Linked DNA regions of Homo sapiens. The protein of the gene in region 1 purifies or fractionates together with the protein of each later gene. This does not show direct contact. Each region holds a gene or a part of one and is shown on either strand. Other genes may lie near its edges. The genes, in order: PTPN18, TANGO6 and SDF4.

What was found.
Region 2: the proteins of PTPN18 (region 1) and TANGO6 purify together in Homo sapiens (affinity purification with mass spectrometry; one large-scale study listed by BioGRID and IntAct). This does not show direct contact.
Region 3: the proteins of PTPN18 (region 1) and SDF4 purify together in Homo sapiens (affinity purification with mass spectrometry; one large-scale study listed by BioGRID and IntAct). This does not show direct contact.

What each region holds. Positions count from the first base shown.
Region 1 is NC_000002.12:130,362,419-130,366,072, forward strand, and holds part of PTPN18 (tyrosine-protein phosphatase non-receptor type 18), read left to right. Parts: intron 1-3,654. UniProt on the Homo sapiens protein: Differentially dephosphorylate autophosphorylated tyrosine kinases which are known to be overexpressed in tumor tissues.
Region 2 is NC_000016.10:68,923,388-68,927,041, forward strand, and holds part of TANGO6 (transport and Golgi organization protein 6 homolog), read left to right. Parts: intron 1-3,654.
Region 3 is NC_000001.11:1,219,068-1,222,006, forward strand, and holds part of SDF4 (45 kDa calcium-binding protein isoform 2 precursor), read right to left. Parts: intron 1,664-2,939; coding exon of another isoform or gene 1,632-1,663; exon of another isoform or gene 1-1,631. UniProt on the Homo sapiens protein: May regulate calcium-dependent activities in the endoplasmic reticulum lumen or post-ER compartment. Isoform 5 may be involved in the exocytosis of zymogens by pancreatic acini.

The DNA.
Region 1 (3,654 bases):
CTTTCAGAGTGAGAATTTTTTATTAATCTATTGCATAGTAATTATTCCCTTATTAGCTATACATCTTTATTTTAAATATTTAGTTGTGGCTTTAGGGTTTACAATATATATCTTTAACTTATAGTCTATAGTCAAATAATATTCTACATTTCATGTAAAATGTCAGAACTTTACTGTAGTATATTTCGATTACCCCTTTCCATGCTTTGTGCTATTGTTACTATATATTATAGTTCTATATATAAAATATACTCCACAGTACACTGCTATTATAGTTGTTTTAGAATATCTTTTTAAACAGCTTTATTGATATACAATTCAGTCATTTAAAGTGTACAGTTCCATCATTTTTCTATATTCCTGAGCTATGCAACTATTACCACAGTAAGATTTTTGTTTTTGTTTTTGTTTTTGTTTTTGAGACGGAGCCTCGCTCTGTCCTCCAGGCTGGAGTGCAATGGCGCGATCTCAGCTCGCTGCAACCTCCGCCTCCCGGGTCCACGCCATTCTCCTGCCTCAGCCTCCCGAGTAGCTAGGACTACAGGCGCCTGCCACCACGCCCGGCTAATTTTTTGTATTTTTAGTAGAGACGGGGTTTCACCGTGTTAGCCAGGATGGTCTCAATCTCCTGACCTCGTGATCCGCCCACCTCAGCCTCCCAAAGTGCTGGGATTACAGGCATGAGCCACCGTGCCCGGCCTACCACAATAAGTTTTTGAACATTTTCATCATTCCATAAAAAAATCCAGGCCAGACATGGTGGCTCATGCCTGTAATCCCAGCACTTTGGGAGGCTGAGACTGGTGGATCACGAGGTCAGGAGATCAAGACCATCCTGGCCAACATAGTGAAACCCCGTCTCTACTAAAAATACAAACATTAGCTGGGCATGGTGGCATGTGCCTGTAATCCCAGCAACTCGGGAGGCTGAGGCAGAAGAATAGCTTGAACCAGGGAGTTGGAGGTTGCAGTGAGCTGAGATTGTGCCACTACACTGCAGCCTGGCCACAGAGCAAGACTGTCTCTCAAAAAAAAAGAAAAAGAAAAGAAATCCTATATCCATTAGCAGTCACTCCCCATTTCCCAGCAACCTCTACAGCCCCAGACAATCCCTAATCTATTTTTGCCTTTATACATTTGCTTACTTTGGACATTTCATATAATTGAATCACATAATATGTAGCCTTTTTTTGCTTAGCATTTTTGTTTTGTTTTGTTTTGTTTGCTGAATACTATTCCATTGAATGGATCTACCACATTTTACTTATTGGTTGACAGAAATTGGGTTCTTTCTACTTTTTGGCTATTATGAACAGTGCTGCTATCAACACTGATATACAAGTCTCTGTGTAGATGTGGGTTTTCATGTCTCTTGGGTATTGCTGGGAATTGCTGGGCTATATGGAAACTCTATTTTTAACATTTTGAGGAAGTGCCAAACTGTTTTCCACAGTGGCAGCATCATTTTACATTTCCACGGCAATGTTTGAGGGTCCCCATTTCTTCTCCCTGATGCTTGTTACTGTCTTTTTTTTTTTTTTAATTATAGCCATCCTAGGGGTTGTGAAGTGGTATGCCATTGTGTCTTTCTTTAAATTATGTGGTAAAATATACATAACATAAAATTTGCCAGTTTATAGGTGCTGTGAGGAATGTTAAAAATAATTTTGCCATTTAAACCATTTCAAGTGTACAATTCAATTGAATTAAGTACATTCACAATGGATTAACCATTCCTACTGTCTATTTTCAGAACATGTTCATCATCCCAAACAGAAATTCTGTATTCATTAAACAATAACTCCCCATTCCCCCATTTCCAGGTAACCTCTATTCTCCTTTCTGTCCCTATGAATTTGCCTATTCTAGGTACCTCATGCAAGTGGAATCAGGAATACACTAATATACAATACTTGTCCTTTTTTCAAGGTTCATCCATGTTGCAGTGTGTATCAGAATTTCACTGTTTTCAAGGCCAAATAATATTTCATTGTATGTATATATCACATTTTGTTTATCCATTCGCCTGTTGGACATCTGGGTTGTTTGTACCTTTTGACTATTGTAAATAAGGCGGCTACAAACATTGGTATACAGGCTGGACACAGTGGCTCACGCCTGTAATCCCAGCACTTTGGGAGGCCGAAGCAGGCAGATCACGAGGTCAGGAGATCGAGACCAGCCTGGCTAACACGATGAAATCCCACCTCTACTAAAAATACAAAAAATTAGCCAGGCGTGGTGGCAGCCGCCTGTAGTCCCAGCTACTCGGGAGGCTGAGGCAAGAGAATGGTGTGAACCCATGAGGCGGAGCTTGCAGTGAGCCGAGATCGCACCACCGCACTCCAGCCTGGGCGACAGAGCGAGACTCCGTCTCAAAACAACAACAACAACAACAACAAAAAATTGGTATACTAGTATCTGTTTGAATCCCTGTTTTCAGTTCCCTGGGTATACACCTAGCATGGAATTGCTGGATCATATGATAACGCTATGTTCAACATTTTGTTTTCCACAGTGGCTGTACCATTTTACGTTCCCATCAGCAGAGAGAGAGAGAGGGAGGGAGGGACATGTGTAGTTTAATGACAGGGATATGGTCTGCATTGTTAAGACTATCTTGTCATTGTGTAAACATCATAGAGTATACTTACACAAACATAGATAGTATATACATTTTTTATTTATATATTTTTCATATGGAAAACCAAATGTCCCAGCACCATTACTGAGTATCAATCATTTCCCCAACTTAATATGCAGTGTCAATATCAAGTGCCATGTATCAGGTTTCTACATATGCTCCATTATAATCTATGGCACCACCATTGTATATGTGGTCTGTTGTTAACCAAAACATCATTATGTGGCATATGACAATGACATATATGCCATCCTAATGAGTGGGAAGTGGTACCTCATTGTGGTTTTGGTTTTCATGTGCTTATTCGTCCATTTGTATATCTTCTCTGGCCAAATGTCTATTCATGTCATTTATTCATTTTAAAATTGGGCTATTTGGGGTTGTCTTTTTATTATTGAGTTGTAAGCGTTATTCTGTATATAAGTCCCTTATCAGTACATGATTTAAAATGTCTTTCCCATTCTGTGGGTTGTCATTCCACTTTCTTGATGGTGTGTTTTGAAGCACAAACATTTTGTGAAACTTTAATTCCAATCTATTGTGTTGCTGTGCTTTTGGTGTATCTGAGAAGTCATTGTCTAATCAGAGGTCATAAAGACTTACTCCTGTTCTTCCTTCTAAGTGTTTTATAGTTTTCTTGCTTACAGTTAGGTCTCAGATTTACTTTGAATGAACTTTTGTATGTGATGTGAGATAGGGGTCCACATTCACTCTTTTGCATGTGACTATCCAGTTGTTCCAGCACCATTTGTTGAAAAGACTATGCTTTGCCCATTGAACCGTCTTGGCCCCTTTGTTGAAAATTAATTGGCCATAAATATAAGGGTTTATTTCTGAACTCTCAATTTTATTAAGCTGATTGATGTGTTTATCCTTGTGCCAGTGTAACATAGTTTTGATTATTATACCTTTGTAGAAGTTCTGAAATCAGGAAGTATGAGTCTTCCAAATTTGTTCTTTTTTCCAAGATTGTTTTGGCTATTTTGGGTAGGTCCCCTGCTGTGCAGAAG
Region 2 (3,654 bases), on another chromosome or scaffold:
GGTAGAAGTAGTGGTAAGCAAGCTAGAGGTCTATTGCAGAATGGAGGAAGGGGAGAGAGGGACGAGCCGCTGAAATCTGTTGCATGCTGGTGAGGCGAATTGGTTGAGTCAGTTCCTGTGCTACAATGCTGTCCTTTCTCTTCTTCACCGAGCCCAATTTGGGTGCTCTATAGAACTGCTTGGGAAAATTCCCATTATTTCAAGCTGTTATATAGAACTCCAAAGAGCAGACAATCCTTCTTAATTGCTGTTGCTTTCAAGCAGCCTCATTTAGAGATGTCTTACTTTCTGCCATATTTAATAAACCTGCCACAGTAGGTACTTAATTAACAGTTTTTGAATGGATGGATAAATGGAAGGAAGAAAGAATAAAAGGAAGAAAGGAAAGGTGATGTCTAATGAAGGAGGCATGATTTGTTTTGTTTTGTTTTGTTTTGTTTTGTTTTGTTTTGTTTTTTCAAAAGGGCATGAGCTCAAAAAGTTGAAAAACACTGCCCTCACCCATAGTGAGCAACCTCCAGATCTGGGCACACCCATGGGAGTGTTGTGAATGTTAGTCATGTGTTATCAGGGGCAAAGGAGAGCCATGCTTCTTGTTTTCACAGGCTTTCACTTGATTATCCTCTAGGTAATCCAGTCTTTTATCAGAATTTCCCTAGAGTGGAGAGGCATCCTTCAACTGCTTGTATGCAGGTGATCAAACTGGCTAAAAAAGCCCTTACTTGCAAACCACAGTGCCTCCAATTTTACAACTTAAAAAGAAAATGACTTTCCAGTTAACTAAGCTGACTAGTTCTCTCTAATTCTTTTGCTTTTGAGATTAAACCATCTATTTCTGGAATTGTCTTCATTGTGCTCATTTATACACATCGTTAAAGATTTTCAGAGCTTTGGCCAGGTGCCAGTGGCTCACGCCTATAATCCCAGTGCTTTGGGAGGCCGAGGCAGGAGGATCACCTGAGGTCAGGAGTTCCAGACCAGATCAGCTACTCGGGAGGCTGAGGCAGGAGAATTGCTTGAACCCAAGAGGCAGAAGTTGCAGTGAGCTGAGATCACACCATTGCACTCCAGCCTGGGCAACAAGAGTGAAACTCCCTCTCAAAAAAAAAAGGCTCCTCAGCTGGGCACGGTGGCTCATGCCTGTAATCCCAGCACTTTGGGAGGCTGAGGTGGGAAGATCACCTGAGGTCAGGAGTTCGAGACCAGCCTGGCCAAAATGGCAAAACCCCATCTCTACTAAAAATATAAAAAAATTAGCCGGGTATGGTGGCGGGCACCTGTCATCCCAGCTACTTGAAAGGCTGAGGCAGGAGGATCGCTTGAACGTGGGAGGCGGAGGATGCAGTGAGCTGAGATCATGCCATTGCACTCCAGCCTGGGTGACAAGAGCAAAATTCCGTCTCAAAAAAAAGAAAACAGAAACAAACTCCTCACATAGCTGCTGCCACCCAGTGCATTTCCCTGGACAACCCCAGGGGCTAGATGTTCAATGAGTAAATACCCCCATACAGGTTGTGGGCACCTGGTTGTCCAGCCCGAGGCCAGGGATCCCAGGTCACACCCTTGATCAGGGAGGGATCAAGGTGCTTCTGCCATGCCCAGGATTGAGAACTCTGTGGATGCAAAGAGGGGTGGGTGGGAAGCCTGGTGTGGTGGCTCACGCCTGTAATCCCAGCATTTTGGGAGGCTGAGGTGGGCGGATCACATGAGGTCAGGAGTTTGAGGCCAGCCCCGGCAACATGGCAAAACCCTGACTCTACTAAAAATACAAAAATTAGCCAGGCATGGTGGCCGCACCTGGAGTCCCAGCTACTCAAGAGGCTGAGGTGGGGGAATCGCTTGAACCTGGGAGGTGGAGGTTGCAGTGAGCCAAGATTGTGCCATTGCACTCCAGCCTGAGCAATAGAGCAAGACTCTGTCTCAAAAAAAAGAAAAAATTGCAATTCCCTAATGACTTATGACATTGAGTATGTCTTCCTATGCTTATTTGCCATCTGTATATCTTCTTTGGTAGGGTATTCTTCTTTGGTAGACCTATCTGTTAAGGTCTTTTGCCCATTTTTAAGTCAGGTTGTTCATTTTCTTATTGAGTTTAAAGAGTTCTTTGTATATTTTGGATATTAGTCCTTTTTCAGATATGTCTTTTACAAATATTTTCTCTCATTCTGTAGTTTGTCTTCTCATTCTCTTGACAGTTTCTTTTGCAGAGCAGACATTCTTAATTTTAATAAGGTCCAGGTTTTTAACTATTTCTTTCATAGATCATGCCTTTGCTGTTGTATTTAAAAGGTCATTGCTTTTAAGAGGTCATCTCAATTTTCTACTATGTTAACTTGTAGGAGTTTTATAGTTTTGTATTTGACAGTTAGGTTTATGATCCATTTCAAGTTAATTTTTGTGCAAGGTGCAAGGTCTGTGTCTAGATTCATTTTTTCACATGTGCATGCCAGTTGTTCCAGCACCATTTGTTGAAAAAACTGTCTTTTCTACTGACACTTGTTCCAATTAAAAAAAAAAAAAAGAAAAAAGAAACTGTATTTTTTTTTCCATTTAAAGCCTTTGCTCCTTTGTCAAAGTTCAGTTGACTCTATTTATCTGGGTCTATTTCTGGCCTTTCTGTTCTGTCCCATTGATCTATTTGTCTTGGCTGGTTTTTTTTTTTAGAAGAAATTGTTATATAGAAGAGAAATTAAAAAAGAGGCCAAATAGACTGTAGGTAAATTATTCTCATTTTAGATGCTTTAAAAAAGTCCATGATACAACCGAGGCACTGAATGAAGTTTAGCATAATGATAATACTAGTATAATTATTTGAAAATGTCTCGGCCGGGCACCGTGGCTCATGCCTGTAATTCCAGCACTTTGGAAGGCCAAGGTGGGCGGATCACCTGAGGTCCGGAGTTCAAGACCAGCCTGGCCAACATGGTGAAACCCCGTTTCTACTAAACTATAAAAAATTAGCCAGGCATGGTGGCGTGTGCCTGTAGTCCCAGCTACTCGGGAGGCTGAGGCAGGAGAATGGCGTGAACCCGGGAGGTGGAGGTTGCAGTGAGCCGAGATTACGCCATTGCACTCCAGCCTAGGCAGCAGAGCGAGACTCCGTTTCCAAAAAGAAAAGAAAAAAATAAAAATAAAAAGGATTTTTTTTTCTTTTTTTTGAGACAGAGTCTCGCTCTGTTGCCCAAGCTGGAGGGCAGTGGCGTGATCTCAGCTCACTGCAACCTCTGCCTCCCGGGTTTAAGCGATTCTCCTGCCTCAGCCTTCCGAGTAGCTGGGACTACAGGCACATGCCACCATGCCCAGCTGATTTTTGTATTTTTAGTAGAGGTGGGGTTTCGCCATGTTGGCCAGTAAAAAGGACTTAAGATCCTTAAGGTATTCAAATTTTCAGGGTCTCCTGAAGCCTCATCTGATAATTTCTCCAGTGTTTTCAAACAGAAAAGTATTACCATTGATTCTTACTTTTCATTGATCACACATACACCTTTTGGGTGGCAGTGGGTGAGGGGGGTGCTTTCCAGTGAAGACCAGAAAACCTGCTAGACAAATTCTAATAGAGCTGTAACACTCATGCACCTTTCTTAGTAGTAAGGCATATGACATTATTCAGACAAAGCTTCCATGGAGAATAAAATGTTATATAATTTTCACTTC
Region 3 (2,939 bases), on another chromosome or scaffold:
CCCAGAACATGGCCCAGCCCCTAAGACACAGCCTGGACCCCCGCCAAGACATAACCCAGAGCCTCCCACAGGCCTGATCCCCAAAGGCATAGCTTGGACCCCTCCACACAGCCCGGACTCCCCAAGACAGCCTGGACCCCCCCCTGCCCCAGACCCCCAATACATGGATGGCCCTGACTCCCCACAGACACAGCCCAGACCCCCAGGACATGGCCTGGACCCCCCACACAGCCCAGACCTCTCAAGACATGATCCAGAACCTCCCCATGGCCCAGACCACCCCAGGACACAGCTCAGAGCCCCTCATGCCTGGGACCCCTCAGGATGGGCCTGGGCCCCACCCCCCACACCCGCGCCTGCCCCTCTGGAGGAGCGGAATCACCCTGAAGGCTGACGTGCGCACGGCGCCGCGGGGCGAAGGACTCACTGCCCTTTTCCGTTTCCTTCACGTGTGACGTCACAGGGAGGAAAACACAGTTTCTAGAAATGACTGAGACTGGGGCTGAGCAGAGCTTCCCAGGAACCCTCCCAGCCGGGACACGGCACTGCCTCTGGGTGTGTGGCCCCCGCTCTCCTGCCGTGCCCACCCGGCCCCAACGGGCCCTCACCCCGAGGTCCCCACACATCCCAAGGACCCAAGCCACCCTGGGTCTCCAGGACAGAAACACCACCTCCTGCCCCATCTTGGGGCTCACTGCAGTCAGTGGCCAAGTCCAGTGTTGAGGCCCACACTCAGCCCCCTGCACGTGAGGCCCGACTCTGCCCTGGCCGAAGCCCCTGCCACAAGCCCGGCAGCCTCTGCGTCGCGCTCACTGCGGGATGAGGCCCAGCTGCCGTCCCATCTTATCCCTTTCTGAACAACCTCCATCTACACGACCGGTTCACTTAAAGGAAGACAGGAGTGACGGGGCTGTGGTTCCTGGGGCACCCCTCCCTGTCTGCTCCACCGCAGCTCCTGGGATGGATGGACGGGGCCAAACTGAGACCCATCCAGGAGAGGCACAGACGCCCCAGACAGGCCGGCCGAGAGACGCTTTCTCCAGCACAGGATTCTCACAGCCGCCGCCGAGCCCCAGCACCAACCTCAGGCTGGTGAAGAAGCCTTGAGTCCCAGTCCCTCCCCACGAGCCGGGCCTCTGCTGTTAGGGAAGGATCTGGAGAGACCCTCCTGGATCAGGGAGAGTCAACGACTGCTGTCCCTGTGAGAAGAGGACGCAGACCCAGAGAGAGGCAGCGATGGAGGCGGGGGAAGGGAGTGATGCCCGCCTGCCACGCCTTCACCGCGGTCCCCAGAATCAGGTCTGAGGCGCGAGGACAGCAGCCCCCGGACTCACGCGGTGACCCTCGCAGGAGCCATGCAGGGAGGGGTGGGAGGTCGCAGGAGTGACGCCTGCCAGCGCTTCCCAGGCCCCTCCTCCAGGACCCGGCAGCTGCTCTTCCTGAGCCAGAAACCAAATACCCAAAGAGGTCGGGGGGTCCTAGGCACCCTGAGGTCGGGGAGGCCAAGACGGATCGGACACGGGTGGGCAGGGAACAGCACCTCAGCATGCATGGGGACCCCCAAAACGCAGAGTGAATTCTAAACACACCTCTGCTGAGTCCCAAAGGTAGACGGAGGCTTCACAGAAATGTCACAGAGCTCTAGGTCCAGGTGGGCCATGTCCTGGGCAGAAAAGACCCAAATAAAGTGGCACCAAGGAAAGACAGACACAATCAGAGTTGGGGGGCGGGCACGGGCAAGGCCTCCTGCCCCAAGCACATCGCCAACAGGCCGGACCAACGGGATGAAGCTTAAAGACGCAGTCAGGACAGCAGGGAACGCGGGACCGGGGTGGAGGCACGAACCGTGTGTGGGGAGGAAAATGTAAACCACTCTTTTGGAAAGGAAGTAATAACGTCCAATTTGGCCGGGCACTGGGGCTTGTGCCTGTAATCCCGGCATGCTGGGAGGCTGCGGCAGGCAGATCCCTTTAGCCCAGGACTTTGAGACCAGCCTGGGCAACACAGGGAGATCCTCTTACTTTTAGTTTTTTTAATGTCCAATTTGCAGGATTTAGAACGGACAGGACCAAACTCCAGATAAGAGTACGTGAACTGGGAAAAGAGCAGGCAGAGCCAACAGGCTCAAAAGTCTCCGCGTCATTCTAGAAGGTCAAGGCCAGGCACAGGGGCTCATGCCTGCAACCCCAGGATGGGGAGAGGCCAAGGCAGGCGGGTCACTCGCGCCTGCAACCCCAGGACGGGGGGAGGCCGAGCGGGTCACTTGAACCCTCTGAAATCCAAGAGTTTGAGACCTACCTAGGCAACATGGGGAGACCTTGTGTCTACAAAATATATGTTTTTGAATCAGCTGGGCATGGTGGCACACACTGGTGGTCCCAGTCACTCAGGAGGCCGCCCCCATGGGGGCTGGTCACATGATATGGGCCGTTCCTGGCAGGAACGTATCTTACACCTTTATTTTTCTGTCCTCCAAGGAGGATAGATTGAGCCCAGGATGTGGAGGCTACAGGTGAGCTGAGATCGCACCACTGCACTCCAGCCTGGGCAACAGTGAGGCCCTCACTCTTAAACAATTAAAAATTAAAAATTAAAAAAAGAAAGAGGCTAAGACTAGGCGCAGTGGCTCACGCCTATAATCCCAGCACTTTGGGAGACTGCAGTAGGCGGATGACTTAAGTCCAAGAGTTTGAGACCAACCCGGCCAACACGGCAGAATCTATCCGTACAAAAAATACAAAAATTAGCCAGGCGCGGTGATGGTGCCTGTGGTCCCAGCTTCTGAGGTAGGAGGATCGCCTGAGCCCTGGAAGGTACAGCTGCAGGGAGCCGAGACTGCACCACTGCACTGCAGGCTGGGTAGCAGAGTGAGACCGTCTCATGAAAAAAGAAAGAAGAGGTGGTTTGCCTTGAGACTCTGGTGAGGAAATGTGTGTTAC